2 separate regions of the Homo sapiens genome follow, and region 1 is linked to region 2. The links come from fine-mapping of genetic effects on gene expression. A gene starts in region 2. The other region holds a variant in brackets. All regions are shown on one strand. Distances are between the middles of the regions. Region 1 overlaps MAPK1IP1L (mitogen-activated protein kinase 1 interacting protein 1 like). Region 2 holds the start of MAPK1IP1L (mitogen-activated protein kinase 1 interacting protein 1 like).

The links. PIP is the estimated chance that this variant, and not a neighbour inherited with it, causes the effect.
Region 1: its variant is the best candidate, but not a certain one, in a credible set for the expression of MAPK1IP1L in blood mononuclear cells (TOPMed, PIP 0.59).

Annotation. Positions count from the first base shown.
Region 1 is chr14:55,070,045-55,082,547 of GRCh38, reverse strand. MAPK1IP1L (mitogen-activated protein kinase 1 interacting protein 1 like) reads right to left here. Exons shown (of 4, transcript NM_144578.4): 4 at 12,354-12,503. Among named protein-coding and RNA genes, the nearest start is that of MAPK1IP1L, 25 kb to the right of the region's middle. RefSeq lists enhancers at 4,142-4,643, 4,666-5,165, 4,084-5,283, 7,827-7,956, 10,215-10,334 and 1 more. The variant A/G (reference allele first, on the strand shown) is at 7,561.
Region 2 is chr14:55,045,800-55,058,302 of GRCh38, reverse strand. It overlaps MAPK1IP1L (mitogen-activated protein kinase 1 interacting protein 1 like), which reads right to left and starts at 6,656. Exons shown (of 4, transcript NM_144578.4): 1 at 6,500-6,656. SOCS4 (suppressor of cytokine signaling 4) reads right to left here. Exons shown (of 3, transcript NM_199421.2): 3 at 8,814-12,503. RefSeq lists silencers at 6,086-6,245, 6,596-6,835 and enhancers at 6,866-7,065, 6,605-7,294.

The DNA.
Region 1 (12,503 bases), 24 kb before region 2:
GAATTCCATTGTCTACATCCTCACCAACAGTTGGTACAGTCAACGTTTTTAATTAAATTAATTTTATTTATTTATTTATTCATTTTTATTATTTTATTTTATTTTTTTTGAGACAGGAGTCTCACTCTGTCACCCAGGCTGGAGTGCAATGGTACGATCATGGCTTACTGCAGCCTCAACTTCCCAGTCTCAAGTGATCCTCCCACCTCAGGTTCCCAAGTAGCTGGAACTACAGGCACATGCCACCACACCAGACTAAGTTTTTCTATTTTTCATGGAGACAAGATCTCACTATGTTGCCCAGGCTGGTCTCAAAATTTTGGGCTCAAGTGATCCTCCCACCTTGGCCTCCCAAAGTGCTGAGACTACAGGCGTGAACTACCACGCCCAGTCCTGTTTTTAATTGTATGCATTCTAGTAAGTGTGTAGTGGTATCTCTTTGTATCTCTCTCCCCAAGCCCTGGCAGCCACCAACCCACCTCTATAGATTTGACTATTCTGAATATTTTATATACATAGAATCACAGTATATGCAGCCTTTTGTGACTGGTTTCTTTCACTTAGCATAATGTTTTCAAGGTGCATCAAGTTATAGCATGTATCAGAATTTCATGTCCATTTATGGCTGAATAATATTCCATTGATGGGAATACCACATTTTGTTTATCCATCAGTTGATGGACATTTAGGTTGTTTCTACTTTTTGGCTGTTATGGACAATGCTGCTATCAACATTTGTGCACAGGTGTTTGTGTGGACATATATTTTCATTTTTCTTGGGTGTATATCCCTAGGAGTAGAATTGCTGGTCATACAGTAACTTTATGTTTAACCTTATGAGGAACTTCCAGGCCAGTGGTGAGGTTCAAGCAAGGGAAGGAGGAGGTTCTGGGTCAATGGTACATATTTGCTCTATTGGAGAGAAGCAATTGGCCAAAATTGTAGCTTGTCATTAGTCTGTTGAACAGCCATGGATTTTCATTACTTGGGCAGAGAACACATGAAGCCAGGCTAGATATCACCAATGGGTGACCATATTAAAGACTTGTGAATATTGGTATTTAATGTATCACTATTTAGTGCCCAGGTCCCCCTTATGTATGTTTATTACCACGTGTACTCTTGGTTCTCCCAGCTTTTTTCATCTATGTTTAACCCACACATTTTCTAGATGCCAATTACTGATTTATACTTGATATCTTATGAGTTCATCCCATTTCTTCTATAAAATAATTGAATATTTTGAAACTATATATCAAATGCATATTAAACCCTTCCCCTCTGTAATTCATTTCTGCATGACACCACACTTACTTTGTACACAATGCTGAATAAATGTTAAATAAAAAATAAGCAGGGTGGGACCTGTAATCCCAGCACTTTGGGAGGCCGAGGCAGGAAGATTGCTTGAGCCCAAGAGTTTGAGACTAGCCTGGGCAACATGACAAAAACCCATCTCTACTAAAAATACAAAAATTAGCTGGACATGGTGGCACACACTTGCGGTCCCAGCTACTTGGGAAGCTGAGGTGGGAGGATCACCCAAGCCCGGGAGGCGGAGGTTACAGTGAGCCGAGATTGCTCCACTGCACTCCAGCCTAGGCGACAGAGTGAGACTTTGTCTCAAAAAAAATTAAAATAAAAATGAGCAATAATCTCTGGTAGTCCTGCCATAGAAATAAGCAGTTATTCAAACAAAAATTTCCTGTGATTAAGTACTTGGGAAATACTGGTTTTTTGTTGTTTTTGTTTTTTTTTACTATAGGACTTGCTAGCCCCTTAATGTACTAATGTGGTGGTACTTCTTCATGAATGGATTTCACATTCAGTGTCCTCAAACTTACTGATCCATGGAACCCTTTACTCAAGGTGCAGCTCTAGAAATTGGTGTTGTATAAAATACACCTTGGGAAATGTTGCCTTGGGGATTGCTCTGTGCAAGGCCTTGGAAGTATAGCTGTTTACTACAGCAGCCATAGACTGAACAGCTGAACTGAAATTCCTCCGGGTACCTTTTATAAAGTATAAACATCCCACTTTTCTGGTTTGTTTTTTTGTTTTTTGTTTTTTGCTTTTTTTGGTCTCACTCTGTCACCCAGGCTGGAATGCAGTGGTGTGATCTTGGCTCACTGCAACCTCCGCCTCCCAGGTTCAAGCAATTCTCCTGCCTCAGCCTCCCGAGTTGCTGGGACTACAGGCACACGCCACCATGCCTGACTAATTTTTTGTATTTTAGTAGAGACAGGGTTTCACCATGTTGCCCAGGCTGATCTCGAACTCCTGAGCTCAGGCAATCTGCCCACCTCAGCCTCCCAAAGTGCTAGGATTACAGGCGTGAGCCACTGCGCCCAGCCTATTTTTAAAAACAATAACAAGAAGCAAGATAGGGAAATTGAAGTGACTTGGGGTATGAGCTGACTAAATTATGCAATCAAGGGTTTTTCTAATTTCTCCTTTTGAGTAAATACAGGAATAATGTCCCATCCCCTAAACAGCACAGTGCTGAGACTAATTCTTTGACAAATATTAGGCACGTTGAAAGATATTAGGTTCATAAAAAGGAGACTTCAGGCAAGGCGTGGTGGCTCAAGCTTGTAATCCCAGCACTTTGGGAGGCTGAGGTGGGTGGATCACCTGAGGTCAGGAGTTCGAGACCAGCCTAGCCAACATGGTGAAACCCTGTCTCTACTAAAAATACAAAAAGTAGCCGGATGTGGAGGCACATGCCTGTAATCCCAGCTACTCGGGAGGCTGAGGCAGAAGAATCACTTGAACTCGGGAGGCGGAGGTTGTAGTGAGCTGAGATCGCACCATTGCACTCCAGCCTGGGTGACAAGAGCGAAACTCTGTCTCAAAAAAACAAAAAGAAAAACAAAAAAAAACCCAGAAAGACTTCCTCTTCCACCTGGCTGGAAAAATATGCCTAATAGAACACCAGGAAACCCAAATCTCCGTGCGAAGCGTCTCCCTCATATGGTTAGCCTGGAGAGCCAAGGGATCCTAAAACTTAAAACTGAGTTTATTGGAGCTCTCTGTATTGTAGATGGGAGAACAGCTAACTTAATCTAGTAGACAGAATATAGGGACAGAAACAGAGCCAATCATAGGTCTTCTACCCTATCATGCTCCGTTTCACATCCTCTGGCCCCAACACTATCAACATATAGGCAGGTATTGCTGCTCCTGACCCATACCATCCTGCATACAGGATTGTCTCTCCCCCTTGCCCTTTTTGCAGTCTCTTCTTGCACCCTTCCCTAAGCATATCTCCAGCCTGAATCCTGCTCAGCTGTCAAATTTCAGCTCAAATGTCATTTCCTCTGGTGAGCTTTCCTTGACTCCAGAATACTGTTACACATTATTTCCCCATCGCTCATTACAAATGTAATTTATATTATTTAGTGATTGTCTCTTCCACTAGCTTGTAAACTACACAAGGGCAGAAACCATTTAACTTGTTCAGTATTGAATTTCCAGGATGTGGCACAGAGTAAGTAGTAAAAAAATACCAGTTAGTTGCTCACACCAGTAGCCCTAGCTACTCAGGAGGCTGAGGTGGGAGGGAGTATCGCTTGAGCCAGGGAGTTTGAGGCTGCAGTGAGCTATGATCGAGCCACTGCACTCCAGCCTGGGTGACAGGGCAAGACCTTGTCCCCCAGAAATAATAATAATAAAATAAATAGGCCGGGCACAGTGGCTCACACCTGTAATCCCAGCACTTTGGGAGGCTGAGGCAGGCGGATTATGAGGTCAAGAGATCGAGACCATCCTGGCCAACATGGTGAAACCCCATCTCTACTAAAAATACAAAAATTAGCTGGGCATGGTGGTACGCACCTGTAGTCCCAGCTACTCAGGAGGCTGAGGCAGGAGAACTGCTTGAACCCGGGAGGTGGAGGTTGCAGTGAGCTGAGATTGCACCACTGCACTCCAGCCTGGCGACAGAGCGAGACTCCATCTAATAAAATAAAATAAATAAATAAAAAATAAATAGGCCAGGCGCAGTGGCTCCCACCTGTAATCCCAACACTTTGGGAGGCTGAGGCGGGCAGATCACCTGAGGTCAGGGGTTTGAGACCAGCCTGGCCAACATGGAGTGAAACCCCATCTCTACTACAAATACAAAAATTAGCCAGGTGTGGTGGCAGGTGCCTGTGTAATCCCAGCTACTCGGGAGGCTGAGGCAGGAGAATTGCTTGAATCCGGGAGGCAAAGGTTGCAATGAGCTAAGCTTGTGCCACTGCACTCCAGCCTGGGTGACAAAGTGAGACTCCGTCTCAAAAAAATAAATAAAAATAAGTAATAAATACATACATACCAGTAAGTTGAACGACTAAAACCTAGGTGCTAAAATATCTTTGCTCATTTATCTTAGGCCTGTTCTATCTTTCTTTGTCCTAGGACAAAATCTTATCAACTCCTTTGTCCAAAGCTCAAATCCCTCGAGACTCATTCCAGGAAGCCTTCTCTTGCCGATTCCCCAGTCAGAGTAGTTGTTGGCCTTCGTGGACACAGGCTAATCTCTCATGTAATCCCAAATGAGCTGGGAAAAGCCGTGCTCTTTTAGAATATGAGGTATTCAGAGTTGCTAGTGGGCCTGAAACTCTGTAATGAATAGCTCATGTGTACTCCCAAAACCCAGCAAGAAGGAATAGTGCAGCTGTGGGCAGCCAAGAAGCAAGTCGTGTTCACAGGTATGTGGCTGACGTCAGTGCGGATAACTCATGAAAGCTGTTCCAGGGTGGAGCTGTTCTCTGGAATGTTGGGAACACAGCTACTCAGAGGTACAATTGTGACACTGGACTTCCTCCCCAGACGGGGCGCCTGCCTGCCCTTCATCTGTTGCCGAAACTCACTCACATACCCAGGCCTGGGGCTTGCGATTTTTCTAATCCATCCCCAAGGTGAGCTGCTTTCAAACAGGGTGTGGAATTGATTTGGAAATATGGCCAGGTGCAAAGTAGCGTGAGGTGAGGAGACAGATGTTCTTTTGGACTCTCTTTCTCCGAGACAGGTCTTTTTCTGAAGTGCCTTAAAATATTAATGGTGCCCTGCGTGATAAAGGGGAAAGAGCATGGCTCTGCACTCCACAGGCTGTGAATTTTTACCCCTTGCTTATGTTGTTGTGAGGACACAGTGAGTGTGAGTAAAGGCCTTGGGTAAGGGGCGGGGCTTATAGGGCATTGCTAAGGGAGAAAACAGAAAACAAAGCATGTGGGTGACTGTCTGAGACATCACTAGTGTTCAACAAATGGTAGCTGTTTCACTATTAGGTGCTCCTCGGGTGTACTCAGAGCAATCCGTGCCTCCTGCATCAGTAACATCACACCTGCCTATTTTTCTGTTTCTTCTGCTAAACTGTAACACTCTTGTAGGCCCAATACCTAGAAAAATGCCTTTCAGCTCCCATGATAAGCTCACATCTGATGTCAGGTGCCAACTGCTTCACATGGATGACTTCATTTAATTCTCGTAACCCTGTGGAGTTAGGCATGAGTGTAATCCTCATTTTATTTTATTTTTTATTTTTTTGTGTGGAGTTTCATTTTTGTTGCCCAGGCTGGAGTGCAATGGCGTGATCGTGGCTCACTGCAACCTCCACCTCCTGGGTTTAAGTGATTCTCCCGCCTCAGCCTCCCGAGTAGCTGGGATTACAGGTGCCCACCACCACGCCTAGCTAATTTTTATATTTTTTAGCAGAGATGGGGTTGAAACCCCGTTGGCCAGACTGGTCTCAAACTCCTAACCTCAGGTGATCCGCCCGCCTCGGCCTCCCAAAGTGCTGGGATTACAGGCGTGAGCCACCACGCCCGGCCCTCATTTTATAGCTGAATAAGCAAAGGCACTACAAGGTTAAGTAATTCAGCCAGTGTGATCTATGTAGTAAGCAGTGGAGTCACGATTTAAACACAGCTGGCCAGGTTCCAGAACCTGTGCTCTTTACCTCTGTTTTTGTTTGTTTGTTTGTTTTCTTTTGTTTTTTTTTTTTTTTTTTTTTTTGAGATGGAGTCTCGCTGTGTCGCCCAGGCTGGAGTGCAGTAGCACTATCTCGGCTCACTGCAACCTCCGCCTCCCAGGTTCAAGCAATTCTTCTGTCTCAGCCTCCCAAGTAGCTGGCGCTACAGGCACGCACCACCACGCCCAGCTAATTTTTGTATTTTTAGTAGAGATGAGGTTTCACCACGTTGGCCAGGCTGGTCTCAAACTCCTGACCTCAAGTGATCCTCCCACCTCAGCCTCCCAAAATGCTGGGATTACAGGCGTGAGACACCACGCCCAGCCTGCTCTCTACCTCTATACTACGCTGCCTCTGTCCTCACTCTAATTATGTTTTTCTCATTTTTCTCCCTAATAGCACAGTGAAAAATACCATCCCTATTGTCTTCCGTATTTGTGGGGCTATCTTTATTCTGCGATTCTTGTTGTACTGGCTCAACATAATGCTTTACACAATTGAATGCTTGACAATTGCCTCCCCATTGGTGCAGAGCTGGGTCTGGCATGCTGGGTTTATGACCCAGTTATGCTCTTTCACAAAAACATTTCTGGATGCCATTGTCAGACAGGACACTAGACTGAGTGGACTACTGGGAAGACCCTTTTATGCTCTTGTGTTCTAAATGACAGCCCTGTTTCCTAAAGTAATTGAGATTTTCAGTTATCAGCATAAAAGGAAACCATGGATGCTAGGCACAGCCTCGTGCTACTGTTACATGCCTCAGACATCAGTCACCACTGAAGTTAGGCTTGTCTGCCTCTCTCAAAGACAGTCTGAGTGAAACTGGAGTTTTCTTTCAATATTAGGTTCTCAGGTCCCATATGCTTTTAAAAACATGTAAATTATATATGCAAGAGAATGACATATATTTGGAGTTAAATAAGTCAAATGAATACTCATGTATAGCCACCATCCCACTCAACTCAATAGAATATTACCAGAATCTCAGGCTAAGCGCGGTGGCTCATGCCTGCAATATCCCAGCACTTTGGGAGGCCGAGGTGGGTGGATTGCTTGAGCCCAGGAGTTTGAGACCAGCCTGGGCCACATGCTGAAAACCCATCTCTACAAAAAAAATCAGCTGGGCCTAGTGGTGCATGCCTGTAGTCCCAGGTACCAGAGAGGCTGAGGTGGGAGGATTGCTTGAGGGGAGGTCAAGCCTGCAGTAAGCCGTGATTGTGCCACAGCACTCCAGCCTGGGCGACAGGGCAAGACTCTATCTCAAAAAAAAAAAAAAAAAAAAAAAAGTGTGTGTTTGTGTGTGTGTATATATATATGTGTGTGTGTGTATATATGTGTGTGTGTGTATATATATCCAGAATCTATCCTCTCCCCACTGCGTCCTTCTCCCACTCCTCCCCCGGCAATTCTAACATGCTTTTCATTATAAAGTATTAGCTGTTTGAAAGCGATAATTTTTCTGATGACTACTGTATATCAGATGTGATTCCTAAGTACTTTGTGTTATAAAAGGTGCTAGCAGCAAAAGAATATTCAAACTTGTATTTTGAAGTTTCATTTTCAACGTGAACTGATACTGTCAGTGAGCTGCTTTCTATTCT[A/G]ACTTTACAACCACAGTGCTGCAGCATAATAGTGTGCTGAGAACACGTGTCTTTAAATTGTGGATGTGCAAAATTTTGCCACAAATTGGGGACATGTACTTCTGTGGCAGTGACTGCCAGAATGTTAAGATGACCGGTGCTGCAGATGGGGAAGAGCAGATGCAAACAGCAGGAGTGAAGAGGTGACTGTAACATGAAGCCAGGGCCACAGATAGATTGTTTCCTGCAACACGTAAGAACTTTGCTGTGTAACTATGTGAGAGAACTCGGCCATGGCAGCAGATGCTCTCCTCAAACACCCTGATGAATACTAGTGTGGTAACACCTGAAGCATTTAATCCTTACAGGAGAGCCACAAGTTCTAGTATTCAAAAATGCACCTCAAGCACCAAAAAGTTGACAACTCTTACCCGGCCACTAGATATTTCTGAAATGATTTAACAAGTTTTTGCTATTTCCCTGCCATTCAAGTATCGTATGAAATAATAATTTCACTGTCCCCTAGTCCCTCTTTACTGTGAATTAGAAACAAAACGTGTATGTCACCCCAGGGTTGGAGGAAATGAAATGTAATTCTATTACATATTTGGTAATATTTATATGCAGCAGCCAGAGACCCTCCAAAATTGGACATAAGCCAGGCGCGGTGGCTCCTGCCTGTAATCCCAGAACTTTGGGAGGCCGAGGCAGGAGGATTGCTTGAACCCAGGAGTTCAAGACAAGCCTGGGAAACATAGCAAGACCCCATCTCTAAAATACAATAAAATGGACATAATTTTTGGTACTACTCAGTTTGTAAGGGGATTAAGTTGGGGGAAAAACTTAGGGCTTTAAGGGAAATTGCTTTCTGACTTGGGAGGGAAAAAGACATAATTGTGGCTATGTGGCAGAAACCTTTGGAGAGGTGCCCAGAAAAGTAGAAAGCCCTGTTCCAACCCTCTTTCTCTATCTAGCTCCTCTATCTTAGAAGACATGACTCCCTGTTCCAAGACTGGGACGTGCTTGCTTCTTGCCGTTGGGACTTACTGAAGATAATGTAGCTACAATTCAGTGACTTGGATATGGTTCTTCACCTTTATAAGATGCAGTCTGAGTAGCACCCTAAATAATATAGTCATCTCTCAGTATCCACAGGGGATTGGTTCCAGGACCCTCCTGGGATACCAAAATCCACAGATGCTTGGGTTGCTGATATTAAATGGTGTCGTATTTGCCTGTAAACTACGCACATCCTCCCTTATACTTTAAATCATATCTAGATTACTTAGAATACCTAATACAATGTAAATGCTAGCACATAGTTGCTATATTGTATTTTACATTTTGTATTATTTATTGTTGTTTTCCTTCGAAATATTTTCCACCTGAGGTTGGTTGAATCCCCAGATGCAGAACCCACAGATACAAGCGGCCGACTGTATGTGAATGAAGGGGTAACTTCTACAGTAAAACATGTTTTTTAGGACAAGTTTTTTCTCTGAGGAAATAAAATCTTCACTGGTACTCTTTTTTTGTTATATTTAGGACAACCATGTGACTTATCACAAACACCAGGACACTTTTGTGGATGCAAGGGAGGTGCTTTAATAATTATACCTGGAGTCTGGGCGTGGTGGCTCACGCCTGTAGTCCCAGCACTTTGGGAGGCCAAGGTGGGTGGATCACCTGAGGTCAGGAGTTCGAGACCAGCCTGGCCAACATGGTGAAACCCTGTCTCTACTAAAAATACAAAAACCAGCTGGGTGTGGTGGTGGGCACTTGTAATCCCAGCTACTTGGGAGGCTGAGGCAGGAGAATCGCTTGAACCCAGGAGGCGGAGGTTGCAGTGAGCCGAGATCATGCCATTGCATTTCAGCCTGGAGGGAAAAAGCAAAACTCTGTCTCAAAAAAAAAAAAAAAAAAAAAATTATACCTGGCAAACAGGAACCAGAATGATTCCAGGCCATATATCCAACTGGGACATATAACCACTTGCTTAGAGCACAAGGTTGGTGGTTAATAAATATTAGGATCACATTGTGTACTCCCTGCTCCCCCCGGCATGTGAGGTAAGAGCTAATCACATTGTGTAACATTTAATCCTTAATGTTGATCACCTAATTTTTATTTTTTTGAGACAGGGTCTTACTCTGTCACTCAGGCGTGGTGCCATCATGGCTCACTGCTACGTCTGCTTCTTGGGCTCATGTGATCCTCCCACCTCAGCCTCCCAAGTAGCTGGGATTATAGGCATGAGCCACCACGCCTGGGTGATAATCTGATTTTTAAAAAAGGAATATTCATATAGAGCTACTATATTAGATGTGCATTGTTTGGGGTATGCTAACATACCTAGTGGATCTCTAGCTAGAGGGAATGAAGAATGTTTTTTCCCTCATGGTACTTTGAGCATTATTATGTTTATAGGTAAGGGAAGTGAGCACAGGAAGCTAATCAGTTGCCGTAAATCACACACCAGAGCTGAGCTCAAAGCTTAAAATAAAAACCCTAAAAAACAAATTCGTGACCCAACACTGATTTAAAAAGAAAAGTAAAAAATAAAAATACCAACTCTGCCCTGTGAATCCCCAGCAATTGTGTTGCTCGCTGAACCATGAAGGGCTGCCCTTTAGAATTTGATCACAGAGGCATCGAAGGTGGAGACTTATTACCCCTTTCAGACGAGAAATCTTATGCTGGGAAGCTGCTTTTCCTAGTTCGCACAAGTCCTCTTCATTCCACTTCTATAAAAAGCCCAAGTAAGAGTCCTAATCGTTAGTCATGCAGTTTAGTCTTTTTGTAGATTTGAGCATTCAAGAAAGGACGCAGGTGATTCATTAAGCTTAGTACTTGGGGTTTTTGTGTGTTGCAGTAACTAAGCAACAGTTAAGATATTTTAACTTAGCATGTCCTGCATTGGCACGTTTAAAAAAAGAACTGTCATGCCGTGCTTGGCAGAACCTCACTCTGACTCTTCCACACTCTGTGCAGTTCCTGTACATCTTGGCTGCCCATCCACTGCTAACAGAGACCTCTTCTGTCTCAGCTGCTCTGACAGCCTTGGCCTAGTGTGTGCCACTGCAGGGTAGCTGGATATCCATGTCTCCAATGACTGGTAACTGCAAAGGCTGGACCTGGAACTAGTGGTTTGATCATCCACTACCTTAATTCTCTCATTCACATTTTAAACCCACTCTTAACTGCTATACCTTTGAACATTTGCCTTTATGAAAACACAACTCAAGTTCTAGGTTAGCACTTGAAGAACTGTGATTATTCACAAAACCATGCATTTCAAACATAACCATTAGCTTTTTTTTTTTTTTTTAACTGAATATCCGATGAAACTCACTAAATGAAGTGTGAGAGGTCTGCTACATAACATTCAATTTAGATAGATTTGATTGTCCAGATAGTTTTGGAAGAACTGCAGTACTAGATGCCTGAACAAAAAAAATAGAACCTAGTGGATAAACTCTAAGCCTTGATAACAGAAGCACTGGTTCATTATTTATGTGGTATGACTCTGGGAATTTAACCTCTAAACAGGATCTTGCTCTGTCGTCCAGGCTGGAGTGCAGTGTAGCCTCTAACTCCGGGGCTCAAGTGATCCTGCCACCTTGGCCTCCTGAGTAGCTGGGACTAGAGGCACATGCCACCACACCTGGCTAATTCTTCAATTTTGGCTTGTGGAGATGGGGTCTTGCTATGTTGTCCAGGCTGGTCTCAAACTCCTGGCTTCAAATGATCCTCCTGCCCTGGCCTTTCAAAGTGTTGGGATTACACAGGCATGAGTCACTGCGTATCTCTTTTAAACTTGGTTTCCTTATCTCTAAAGTGGCTTTTAAATCTACGTATCTTTAAGGAAAGCTAGACTATATGACCATTAAATAAAACGACAAGCTCTGACATAAAACATAATCAGAGCAAAACTTAAAATGTTCTATTTCCTCTTTTCTTACGTAAAACTAAGTATGGCTTAGAATCCCATATGACCCAATTCTATTACACTTGGGAACCTCTGACTATGATCTAAATAAACCTCAAGTAGCAGACATGGTCATTTATAATGGTAGTTTTTTAAAATTTAAAAGCAGCAAATCTGTCCCCTTCCTGAAGCAACTTATCAGTAAGGAAAATACACGAAGTGCAGAGTGGAACTGCTCTAGGGAAAGCAGGGAGAGACTAAGCGTTATAAGCTCTACTTGGTCCTCTCCTCAGCACTGGGAAAATCAATTTTCCCAAATGAGAGAAAAAAGTTTAAGTGCCACGAGGGCCAGGCATGGTGGCTCAAGCCTGTAATCCCAGCACTTTGGGAGGCTGAGGCAGGCGAATCACCTGAGGTCAGGAGTTTGAGACCAGCCTGGTCAACATGGCAAAACCCCATTTCTAGTAAAAATACAAAAACTAGCTAGGACTGGTGGTGTGCACCTGTAATTCCAACCACTTGGGAGGCTGAGGCAGGAGAATCGCTTGAACTCGGGAGGCGGAGGTTGCAGTGAGCAGAGATTGCATCACTGCACTCCAGCCTGGGCGACAGAGTGAGACTGTCCCAAAAATAAGTAAAAGCCACAGGAATAAGCTCTATGAGATGACCCAAATCCTCTCCTGGCACTCGAATTCTATTGCATGCCTTATTTAAAATAAGTGAGCTAAGATTTAGAATTCTATTTTGCTTTGGAGATCAGTTGCAAAAGGATTGGTGCTAAGAGTATTAATACGGTGATAAAAAAGGACTTGCCTGGGTCAGGTAACCCACGATAGCATGTTTGTCAGAGCAATGTCATCTCACAACAGGAAAAAAAGAAACTGGCCCTGCTCCAGAATGGTCTTATTATTTCACCATCCATTTCATAACTCCACTTTAGGTGAATACTTTCATGGGATATTGAATAACATATCAAAAACAATTTAAAATTTTACAGCTGCATTTTGTCCAATCATAAGGCAAAAAGCAGAAATTC
Region 2 (12,503 bases):
CTTTGTTTTGTTATAATGTTGATGAGAAGAAAAAACAAAAAGTCTCAGCTGAGGTCACTGTCTGTGTGAAGCTGGCTCATTCTCCCATCTTTATGGGTCTTCTCCAAGTACTCCAGTTTCCTCCCATATCCCAAAGATGCACATGAATGGATGTGTCTACGCGGCCCAGTCTGTGAGCGTGGGTGTAGGTGAGAGCACCCTGTGCTGGGATGGCGTCCAGTTCAGGGCTGGTTCCCAACTTGGACTCTGAATTGCCAAGAAAGGCTCCAGCCATTGAGACCCTGAACTGGAAGAGGGAGGCAAATAATTATCTTTTTATTAATCTTTCTTAAATGTATACACAGCTCACATTCATTCAATTTTTTTTTGAGACAGGGTCTTGCTCTGTCACCGAGGCTGGAGTGCAGTGGTGTGATCACAGCTCACTGCAACCTCCACCTCCCAGGCTCAAGTGGATCCTCCCACCTTAGCCTTTGAGTAGCTGGGACCATAGGCATGCTAATTTTTAAAATTTTTAGTAGAAATCATTTAAATTTTTTTTTTTTTTTGAGATGGAGTCTCGCTCTGTCGCCAGACTGGAGTGCAGTGGCGCGATCTTGGTTCACTGTAACCTCCGCCTCCTCAGTTTAAGCGATTCTCGTGCCTCAGTCTCCTGAGTAGCTGGGACTACAGGTGCGGGCCACTACACCCACTAATTTTTGTATTTTTAGTAGAGACGGGGTTTCACCATGTTGTCCAGGATGGTCTCCATCTCTTGACCTTGTGATCCGCCCACCTTGGCCTCCCAAAGTGCTGGGATTACAGGCGTGAGCCACTGCGCCCAGCTCATTTAAATGTTTAATACTAGAAGTGTTTTGGGTTTTATTTAAAAGTTTAGTGATGTTTTTGTTACCAGAAATATGCCATAGGAATTTAACTCTTCTTTATATTAATTAACCTAGGGTAGGAAGCATCATTACTGAATTATTTTATTCTTCAAAGTTTCTCACTTGATTCTCTGGTATTTCCAGATAAAAAATACGCCATTTGCAAAAAATAACTTTCCTTCTCTAATATTTATGCATCTTTTCTGTTTTGCACTTGCTAGGACTTAAATAATGAAATGTTGAGTGATAGTGGGCACAGAGGTCTTGCTCCAACTCTCCTGGGAATGCTAATGTTTAAGTATGATTCCCATTTTTAGTTTGAGATTTTAAAAAATTACATTATTTTTAATTTATGCCTATGCTATTATTTATTCCTATTCTGTTAATAAAGAAAGCAAGAAGACATTAAATTCCCTCAAAAGACTTTTCAGTATCTAATGAATTGATCTCATGCTTTTTCTCCTTTGACCTATCAATACAGTATTAACATAGAGCCACCTTTGTATTCTTAGCATCTTATTTCTAATTATGATTTGATTATCATGAGGAAAGGACAAGAACATAAAGGACAAGAACCCAAGCCTATCCCAACTGCTATATCCTTTTTATTCAGAATATCAAAAAACATGGCCGGGCGCGGTGGCTCACGCCTGTAATCCCAGCACTTTGGGAGGCCGAGGAGGGCGGATCACGAAGTCAGGAGATTGAGACCATCCTGGCTAACAAGGTGAAACCCCGTCTCTACTAAAAATACAAAAAATTAGCCAGGCATAATGGTGGGCACCTGTAGTCCCAGCTACTCAGGAGGCTGAGGCAAGAGAATGGCGCGAACCCAGGAGGCGGAGCTTGCAGTGAGCTGAGATCAAGCCACTGCACTCCAGCCTGGGTGACAGTGCAAACTCCGTCTCAAAAACAAAAAAACAAAAAAACCCACATACAACCCATTCCCATGTTAAGGTTTAACGTCAATCACATCACACAATAAAATTTTTAGGACTAACAGTGTAGAAAATATACGGTAAGTTGTAAGGCTAACATGCTTTTTAAACAGGGTTAGCCTTTCTGAAATAGAAAATGATTCTGTATCAAAGTTCATATTAATTCTGGAGTTGAGAATCAAAGTGAACCAAATGGCCTTGACTGTTCAGGTTTTCAGAATTATACAGTTACCTAGTCATGGAATTACATAAATTATTCTACAAGTTAATAATATTCAACTGATTCACAACACTACTTCAAAATTTTAAAGTTCAAAATCCAAGTCTGGAAGATAGGGGAGGTGCTAGAATCTTGTGATTAAAAAACAAAGCCCTAAGCATAGGAATTAGTAACAAGTTCTGTTCTACGGCACTGTCTTAGTAAAGTGACCAGCTCTCCATTCCTAGAATAAACAGCGTTCATGTTAGGGTGATCCCCCCTTATCTGTGGTTTTAATTACCTAAGGTCCGAACATATTAAATGAAAAATTCCAGAAATAAATAATTCGTAAGTTTTTTGTTTTGTTTTTGAGATGGAGTCTCGCTCTGCCACCCAGGCTAAAGTGCAGTAGTGTGATCTTGACTCACTGCAACCTCCGCCTCCCAGGTTTAAGTGATTCTCCTACCTGAGCCTCTCAAGTAGCTGGGATTATAGGCACGTGCCACCACGCCCGGCTAATTTTTAATTTTTGGTAGAGACGGGGTTTCACCATGTTGGCCAGGCTGGTCTCAAACTCCTGGCCTCAAGTAATCCGCCCACCTCAGTCTCCCAAAGTGCTGGGATTAGGCATGAACCACTGCACCTGGCCAATTCCTAAGTTTTAAATGGGGCAAGAGCATGTTCTGAGTAGCAAAATGAAAGTTTGCCCCCTCCTGCCTAGGACGTGAATCATCCCTTTGTCCAGTGTATCCATGCTGTATACGCTATCAGCCCATCTTGGTTATTAGATCTAAAAAACATGGTATACTTAGGCTTCGGCAGTGTATACAGACTTCAGTTTCAGGGATTCATTGGGGAGTCTTGCAATGTGTCCCCCTAGGATAAGGGGGAACAACTATAATTGGAAGCATTCCAATTTGTTCTTTGGAGAATACTTTCATTAGAAAAGGTGAAAAACAGTTGGACATGAACGTTTCAATATGAGGAGAGTTGCAGAACATAAAAAGTTTAGGTTTTCTAAAAAGCTATTCTAAGCCGCGCTTGGTAGTGTGCACCTGTAATCCCAGCTTCTCAGGAGGCTGAGGTGGGAAGACCGCTTGAGGCCAGTAGTTAAGAGACCAGCCTGGGCAATATTAGTGGCACTCTGTCTCAAAAAGAAAAATAAATAAAAATATAAAGCTATTCCAAAATATCTGAATCATCGCTAATTATTAAGATGAGGCCAATGTAACCTTGAACTCATAAAAACAATTTATACTCAAGAAAGGCTTTCTTTTTTTTCTTTTTGGAATAATCTAAAGCTATTATTTCCAAAACTTTGTTACCATTTTATAGCATGATCCACCCATCATCTGAAAAACAATACTTTTTATTCTTTGAATAGCAAGAATAGTAATTTTAAAACAGTACAAAATGTCTTTTGACATACACTAGAAAAGTAAAACATAACATTTTTGGAAACTCTCATGGCTGTTAGGGTAAAAATCATGGGTCAGGGAGGAGGGTGGTTAAGAGAGTTGAACTCCATGAATTACCAGTGGAGTTCATGGATATTTCAGACAGCCTTCAAATTGTGATGGAGTGATAAACAGTATGGGACTACACAGTGATGAAACCCGGACATGAATCCTTTTGACGGTTATCTTTTGACAAAAAACTTCTCAATAAGAGACCATTTTCCATCTGTAGAAGTTATAATTCCTGCCCACTGCACAGAAAATAGTAACACACTTAATCTATAAAGTGCTATATACATGTTAGATATTTGTTAGGCGAAATTAAGCGAAATCAAAATTTTTGGGTTGATTTGTTTAGTATGGGGGGATGATATGTATCGTACTGAAAATATAAATTAATGGCCGGGTGCGGCGGCTCAAGCCTGTAATCGCAGCACTTTGGGAGGCCGAGGTGGGTGGATTACTTGAGGCCAGGAATTCAAGACCAGCCTGGCCAATGGTAAAACCCTATCTCAACTAAAAATACAGAAAATTAGCTGGGCGTGGTGGAAGGCACCTGTAATCCCAGCTACTTCGCTTCGATAGGCTGAGGCAGGAGAATCGCTGGAACCTGGGAGGCGGAGCTTACAGTAAGCGACTCCGTCTCCAAAAAAAAAAAAAAAAAAGAAAATATAAATTATAAATTAGAATACATGCTAGTTTTTAGTATTGGCTCATTTATCTGCTTATGTTCCATTTTTTACATTTGGGCAACTCAAAAACGGGGGTTTTGAAATGCTCAAAAATCTGAATCTTTTTGAGTGCCACCATGCCGCTCAAAGGAAATGCTCATTAGAGCATTCTGGATTTTGGATGCTCAACTGGTGTAATGTAAAAAAAATCCAAAATCTGAAACACTTCTGGTCCCAAGCATTTGGGATAAAGGATATGCAACCTGCAATATTTCTTGGCATTTAGTTATATACTTATTGGAACATATATGCCAAACAATGTGTTGGCCTTTAGAGAAATTATAGTATTACATGGAGATTCCTGAGATGTGCTGTCTTTTGCAGTCCATAAGGACCATAAGGAAAGAGCCGGGAGTAGAGGGCGGTGAAATGGGCCCTAGGGAAAGAAGAGCAGTTAGTGTAAAAACTGGGAGAATCTCTGGGGAGGTATAAGCAGTTCAGATGGGTTAGAATATAGCGAGAAAGGGAAGGGTTGTATTAAAGTCTTAGCAGAGTGACCTTAGACGAGGGTTTGAATTATTTCACTAAAAGTCGGCTCATCTGAATGAACCCGAACTATAAAGAACAGGCCATACTATTTGTAAAAAGCACGCAGTTTAAAAAACAAAACAAATAAAAACCAGGCCAGTAATGTTGCGAGGAACTAAATGGGACTCTGTCCAATCAAGTGCCTAAAAAAATAGTGCTTGGGTGGAAAACAAATACCAAATTCTCTTTTCTTTGTATGTGGACATCTAGCTTATAGGTAAAAAAGTAAACGTTAAAGTATGATTATCTAGCTATAACTGCAGCTCTTCACTGGTTGGTTCGGCCAGAGTTGACAAGTCCAACTCTCCAAACTTGAGGCAAAGGAAGATCGGAATCGTACCCACATCATAGATTTGCTGTAAAACTTTTAATAAACAAATCTCTTAGTCGCTGCCTGGAATATAGCAAAACCTCAACAAATATTAGCTTTTATGATGCCTACTTTTAGGTCCATAAATCTTTATCTGCCCTAGTTTGGCACAAAACTTACATGGTGGCAAAATGTGACCTGAAGCTATTTATAGTTTCTATTCGCCCCCACTTAGAATGAATGTTCACATCTATTGCTGCAAATATTAATGTTGGATTATGGGGTGCCCCACTCTGCTGGGGGTGTTATCTCTCGTCTAACATGACTTTCTAAAAAGATGAAGATAAAATCCAAGTATTTTTGAATTCAAAACACACTAGCTTCAAAAGTTTCAGTTAAGAGACTGGGGATGGATTTTACCCATTCCGCCTGGAGTGAGGAAAAGAACATTCCAATATTTGCAATTCACTCCAAGTTTCTGAAGCAAACTCGCTTTGCATTGTGGGCTCAGAGATGCCAGCATGAAAAATTTCTATTCTTCCCCCAAAGAACACCAGTGAACAAAGAACTTATGAAATGTTTCTGAAGGCTACCTTTGCCTGTAATGAGGGTTCCTTTTCGAAACAGACCTTTACAACCCCCAGGTGTGTATTTCTCTAGTAGTAAAACTAAAAAAAATTCTTGCGGTCGAGTGAGCCTGGCTTCATGCTTTAACACTGGAATCTTTACCTATTAAAAGCTGTACTCTTGCTTTTCAAGGTAAAGAGGAAAACGGTCCAGCTATGCATACGCTATCGCAGGTATGTGCTCCTCAGTCCTAAAAAAGGAGATCACTGAATTCTGCCCTTCTCGTGGTTTGCCCTGGGTATTCATCTAATGTATCCGTGAGCAATTCCTCTAGTAAGTCATAACCAGAACGTTGTCACACTGCGGATTAACAAGCGCCCGAGACTCTTGTAAGAATCTTTTCAGGCCTTTCCCTTTTTATTAAAAATTAATGAATGAGTGTAATAGGGTGGGGGTAGAGGGGAAATCGGGGCCAAGGGGCGCGAGGCCGGCAGCCGTTTAGGGACGCACGAACAAAGGGAGTCCGGGATCAACCGGAGCGAACCGGCCTCCTAGCGGGTCGCGCCCGCCGGGAAGGGGTGGGGGAGGGGCCGGCCCGCGCCCGCCCCGCCCCGCAGCCAGACCTGACGTCAGGCGCCCAGAAACCCGTCGGGCGCGACGTCAGCGGCCTCCGACACCTTCTCCCTGGGGGGCGATCCCCAGGCAGCCCGCAGCGTGGAGGAAGGCGACCGATAGAAACGCTTAGTCCTGGTGCCAGGCAGGCGACCACGGCCCGAGCACTGGACGTGACTCGATGCACCTCGGTCACCGCGCCCGCTTCCCGCTTGGCCGCGCCCGCGGGCTCCGCAACCCCAGCTCCCCGATTCCCCTTCACGACTCCCACTAGTACCGAAGCAGCCTCACCCGGCAATATCCGAGACCGCAGTAGGGTCTAGAAGCGGCGATGGGTCCGAGGGACTGGGCCCTGAAGACGCGGGCGCAGCCTGACTGACGGCAGCTAGAGCAGCGGCGGCAACAGCACCAGCAGCGCGCGGCTCCTCCTGGCGCCGGAACAGGAAGCGCCGAGCGCACCGCCTCCGCCCGTTCTCCCCCTCCCCTCAGGCCGCGCCGCGTGCGCCTCCCGCAGGCCCCTGGCGGTACTGCGGCCCGCCAGGCCTAGGGGGATGGGCTCCACCTGGCGCCGGCTCCGGGCCGCTTTCCCCTGGTGGGCGGGCTAAAAGCTCCCAGAGTTTCCGGAGTTCCGAGGACTCGGAGGAAACGCCAGTGGCTGCCGATGTTCACGGCTTCCCGGCGGAAATTGCTAACTTGTCTTGAGTTGCTTGAGGGCTGATTCTGGATTCCTTTTGCTCAGCGGTTTTTACAGCTAGGCCTCGAAGGAGGCTGGGTATGGACGCGGTCTGATTTCGGCCTGACCCGAGGACTCAGATCCTCGGGCCAAAAGTGGGGAGAGGGAAAATATTAATACAGGAAAGGGAAGACGTTTGCAAATAGCTTGACAAATTGATATTTGCTTTCTTTGTAGATTTTTCCTCATCAATGCCTCTTCTCCCATGTTCTTTTTTGTTGTTTTTGAGACAGGGCCTCTGTCACACACGCTGGAGTGCAGTGGCGCGATCTCGGCTCACTGCAACCTCTGCCTGCTGGTCTCAAGCAATCCTCCCATCTTAGCCTCCGAGTAGCTGAGACTGCAGGCATGTGCCACCACATCCGGCTTATTTTTGTGTTTTTGATAGAGATGGGGTCTCACCCTGCTAGCCTCAAGCGATCTGCCCGCTTCGGCCTCCCAAAGAGCTGGTATTACAGGTGTGAGCCACCGTGCCCAGCCGCCATCTTCATTTCTGAATAAACATTACCTCCTGTGTCAGGCACAGATGACATGACCCCAGTCAAGGAACCTACTAACTAGCAATAAAGATGTCGTGATAATTATATGGTGTGCAAAATATATACATATATGCAATATACTTTTTTTTTTTTTTTGAGACGGAGTCTTGCTCTGTCGCCAGGCTGGAGTGCAGTGGCGCGGTGCGATCTCGGCTCACTGCAACCTCCGCCTCCCGGGTTCAAGCGATTCTCCTGCCTCAGCCTCCCAAGTAGCCGGAACTACAGGCGCGCGCTACCTTGCCCAGCTAATTTTTGTATTTAGAGACGAGGTTTCACCACGTTGGCCAGGATGGTCTCGATCTCTTGATCTTGTGATCCGCCCTCCTCGGCAAAGTGCTGGGATTACAGGCGTGAGCCACTGTGCCCGGCCAATATACATTTTTTAAGATATAAAAATATCCTAAAAGTATGTGGTACACTTGCATCTTGCTTTGTGTAAGGCATTAGTGAGTGAGTGGGTGGCCATTTAACCATGAACTTGTTTAAAGGAAGACATCCCTGGATGTTTTCCACAGCACACACAATTCTCACACTGAAAAAGGGGCAACAGAGGAACTTCAAATACCTAAGCCGAGAGTCTTATTTTTGGGTAAGGGCACACAGGCCTATGGAAAATTACACGACTGGTGTGGACCTAGCCTGTTCTCACTGGTGACAGTGAATCAGCAGTGCCTTGAGCCATGCTGAAACCTGAAGCAACAAGAAATCAGTAATCTGGTCAGGTTTGATTTGAAATTTGGTATCTTGCTCATCATAGGCTTTTTTGCATCAATTCAGATATTACAATATTGTACCAAAACATTGTCTTCCTTAGTCGTATAGTCAAATATTTGTCCCTAAGTGCCTCACCATACCCTAGTCCTGGCGCTGTGTACCAGTAATGGATAGCCTCCAACTTTTCCTTGCCTGCAATCAGCCAGTAGCTGAGCACGTTGGAGGGGTCTAGATCTAGGCCATTCCTGTCCCTGTGGGCTTCTCTACAGGCAACCTTTGCTTGGGAACCAAGTCCTCATCTAGCAGTCTCAAGATGCACTGAAGTCCGAAGCTCCCCTACCCAATCCTTCCTTCTAGGTGTCAGACTTTCTGTGTGGTATGAAGAATTCCCCACCTTCTGCTCCCTTCTCTATCTTTCTAGGTGTTTCACTCCAAATAAATCTCTTGCACCTCTAATCACATTTTGGCACCTGCTTCTGGAAGTCCCAAACACAAAAAAACTAAAAGGAGTGTATTATAAATTAGAAAATATGTAAGAATATGGGTTTCTCTATCTTTTTCAGATTCTAAGTTGAATGTGTGAAGTAAAGACTATGTTTTTAAAATAAAACACAAAGCCTTTGGATTTTACATAGGAAGTTTTAATTAAGTAGAAATGAAAATTTATCCAGATCAATTTATTTGAACTTACATCCAAGAAGAAACATTCAACTTAAGGATTAGAAATAAAAGTGGCAATTGTCTACTTCTTTTGTGGTAAGGAATAGATCATACAAGCCTGACTGATGAGAGTAATAGCTTTGTGAAAACTGTATATTCGAGTACATGTGAACTCATACTTGGCTTATACAGAATTTATCCAATTCTAGCAAAGTCAGCATAATTTAAATAAACCTCCTTGAGTTTTACACCATGGCTCTCAAGTCTGAAAGCTTAGATTTGATTATAACCATGGCAAAAGTGATTATCTTTATTTTCTGAAAACGTAATCAACTTTTAAAATAAGTTAAGCAAACATCAGTTTTACACAGACCATATGAAGGGTAGGAGGAAACTGCAATTGTTCCTCTAATTGCAGAGCCTAAACCATAAATTCAAATTGTACTGCTATCTCTACTGTTAAAACAAGTCAAGAAAGTCTTTTACAGTCTAAGAGAAGTGAATGTAATTATGCAGCATCCACTACAAAGATATTTTGAAAACCTATCATCATGTTAGTACTCAATGGCTGTACAGCAATTATTTTAAAGTACGCTCCCAGGGTCACCTCTTGCTGAAGAATTAACTCCAGGAAGTCGAGTTACAAGTATCACCTACATTTTATAGGAAATAAAGGCAAAGATTTAGGACTGAGTCATCTGTTCAAAATTAGAAAGTAAATAAAAAAATAGACTTTGGTTTTATTTGAAAATCCCTTTCTATTGGGTTATATCCATTAATCTACATTTCAACTTCCAAGCCAATCTATTTTAAAAAGTTACCTCCATTTTGTGTCCAATATCTTACTGTATTAGAATAGTACAGGTAGACTCTTGCACTGCTCATTTCTAGTAGGCCATTAATAAAGAAAAGAAAAACCTTTGTGCTTTCTGTTCTTTCCTTAAATTACAAATGTAAAACTGACTTTTTTCCCCCAAAGTAGAAACAGTAGTTTGCTTGACGAAAAATCTTTTATTCACTTGGGCATTACATTACCTAACATTACACAGGCTATTTTGCTTTTAAACATTGTTTTCCTTGTGTTGTCTCCAGGAATCTCTTATAATTTTGTCTATTTTCCTGTGAAATTTGCTTTACCAAAATGAATGCGTAAGCTGTTTATTGGATTCTGACAATAGCTAAAAGCGACAAGAAATATTTTAATGAAAAGTAAGCGTGAGTTAGATCTTGGCCGGGCACAGTGGCTCATGCCTGTAATCCCAGCACTTTGGGAGGCTGAGGCGGGTGGTCACCTGAGGTCAGGAGTTCGAGACCAGCCTGGCCAATGTAGTGAAACACCATCGCTACTAAAAATACAAAAATTAGCTGGGCGTGGTGGCACACGCCTGTCATCTCAGCTACTTGGGAGCTGAGGTAGGAGAATTGCTGGAACCTGGAAGGCAGAGGTTGCAGTGAACCGAGATTGCGCCATTGCACTCCAGCCTGGGCTGACAACAGCGAGACTCTGTCTCAAAAAAAAAGAGATCTCAAGGTTTTTGTTTCATAGGAAGGAAGCTCTCTATTGCGTGGATCTATAAAATGATCCAAACTTCAGAGACAGGAAGCTGATAACTGGATTTATCTTCTTAATGGCTTTGGCTCATGAATAAATGATAATGGTTTATGTGTTTTTCTTATAAAAAGAAATGGAATTTGTATACCGATAGGAGTCCTACTTGCCACATTTGTTCTACTTATTAAGGGATTTCTAATTACTGAGACATTCTTTATATTATTTATAATAAGAAGTCAAAACTTTAACTGAAAGCCATTCTTTGACCACAGTTGGCCATTAGCTGAAATTCAGGAAATAGCACAGGTTTGATCACCAAATCAATAAATCTAGCCACAGGCTGACTAAAAGCTTCCTTTAATCTTCTTCCTATTAGGTCTTCCTTTAAATTAAACCATTCCCTTCATGAATTATTTAAGTGAATGGCATGGTTATAGAAAGATCACATATAACTCTATACAAAAATGCTAAAGGAACCTTAAAAAGTCCATTCAGCATACTTCAGGAATTATACTATGAATCAAGATGCTGTAGGCTTAGAAAAAAATGGGAGTGGGAGTATGTCCTGTAAAGCTTCAGAGAAAAATAGAAAAGTCAAGTTTATTTCCTGATTAGCCCAGGATGATTCCCAAAGCGCAGTTAAGTGTCTGGTCCAGACTAGCTATTAGCGATTAAGTAGTTTCTTTTCACTGTCAAGGCTTTTCCCTGAGGTAATGCCTAAATTCCTAATTTTAATATTTGATCTTATTTCTCTTAGCTCCATCCTCTCTCACCAATAAGCTCTCCACATTTCCACCATGCTAAATGCTTTCTCAACTCTGGAATTTACACTGTTCAAATCTTCCCTTTGTTCAACAGTTATAAAATTTTAGACAAATTTATACATTCCCACATTGTTCCTCTCAAAATTTACTCATTTATATAGTGCAATCAATATATTGTTTACATTTTATATAGGTTAGTTTCTGAATACTGTATGTTCTTCCAAATGTATCCTTACAAAGACACAGAGGAAGGGGGTAACCTTTCTGAATTCCAATTCCTTAATGTTTTAAAAAAAATTATTACTCTTTTCTTTTCCCTTAAACAATTCCCTTCTCAAGTCTTTATGTATCTACTTTCCAAACTTCTTTTCACTGTAGCAAATACCAAAGGAAAAATAAAAATCATTTCAGAGTCAATGAATCTCCTCCCTGCTCTCATTTATTAGATCAACTACTTCAAGGCTACATATGTGGCAGTACTTTTTAAGTGTTAACAGCTGTTAATACCTTGAAGTTGAAAAAATAAAAAAGCCAGAGAAAACATATCACAAGCAATCAGTTTGAATTATATGAAAAGGTACTTAGATCTTGACTTTCATATAAATACTAATTTTAACACTATAAAAGACAACATAACTATATATCATTTTTCTTTATAAAACTACCCCTTAACAGAATATTTGTAAGCTAGTCATCCCTTAGGTTTTTCTGTACTGATAAAAAGTTATTTTTAAAAGAAAAATATTTAAAATAATTGTTTCACAGAAACAGAAAATCTTATCAAATTCTGATAAAAAACTATAATCATGGGTACTCTTACCACACTATTTTCTTTCACCAAAGATGGATATTTAGGAAGTGGTATATTGGTTAATAAGATAAGCTTCTCAGTGATCTACAAAAGCGCCACAATAAAGATGAGGTAGTATGAGACTTTTCTAACCTTGTAAAAGGTAAATATCGTCTTTAGAAGAGATATTTATCCTGACATTGGTGTTATGATATCCGATATCCTGAGCCTCATCACTGCTAAGAGGTGCCATTTTTGTAGCTACATCTCATTGAGACTAAGACAATCTTGAGATCACTGAGGAAAAAAAAAATGCTAAAAGATAACGGTAATAGAGATTTTCCTTAATTTTGTAATAATTACTAAAAAATTATTTTAAAGCTATTATGGAAAAATGCCATTTTCATGTTAACAGAACTGCAAGATAGGGAAATGCTACTCACATAAAAGCAACAATAATGAAGAAATATTTGTTCTAACTTGGAAGTTTATGAGTCAAATTTCTTTCAATCTAGGTAGAAGCAGTTTCCTAATATAGCTAAA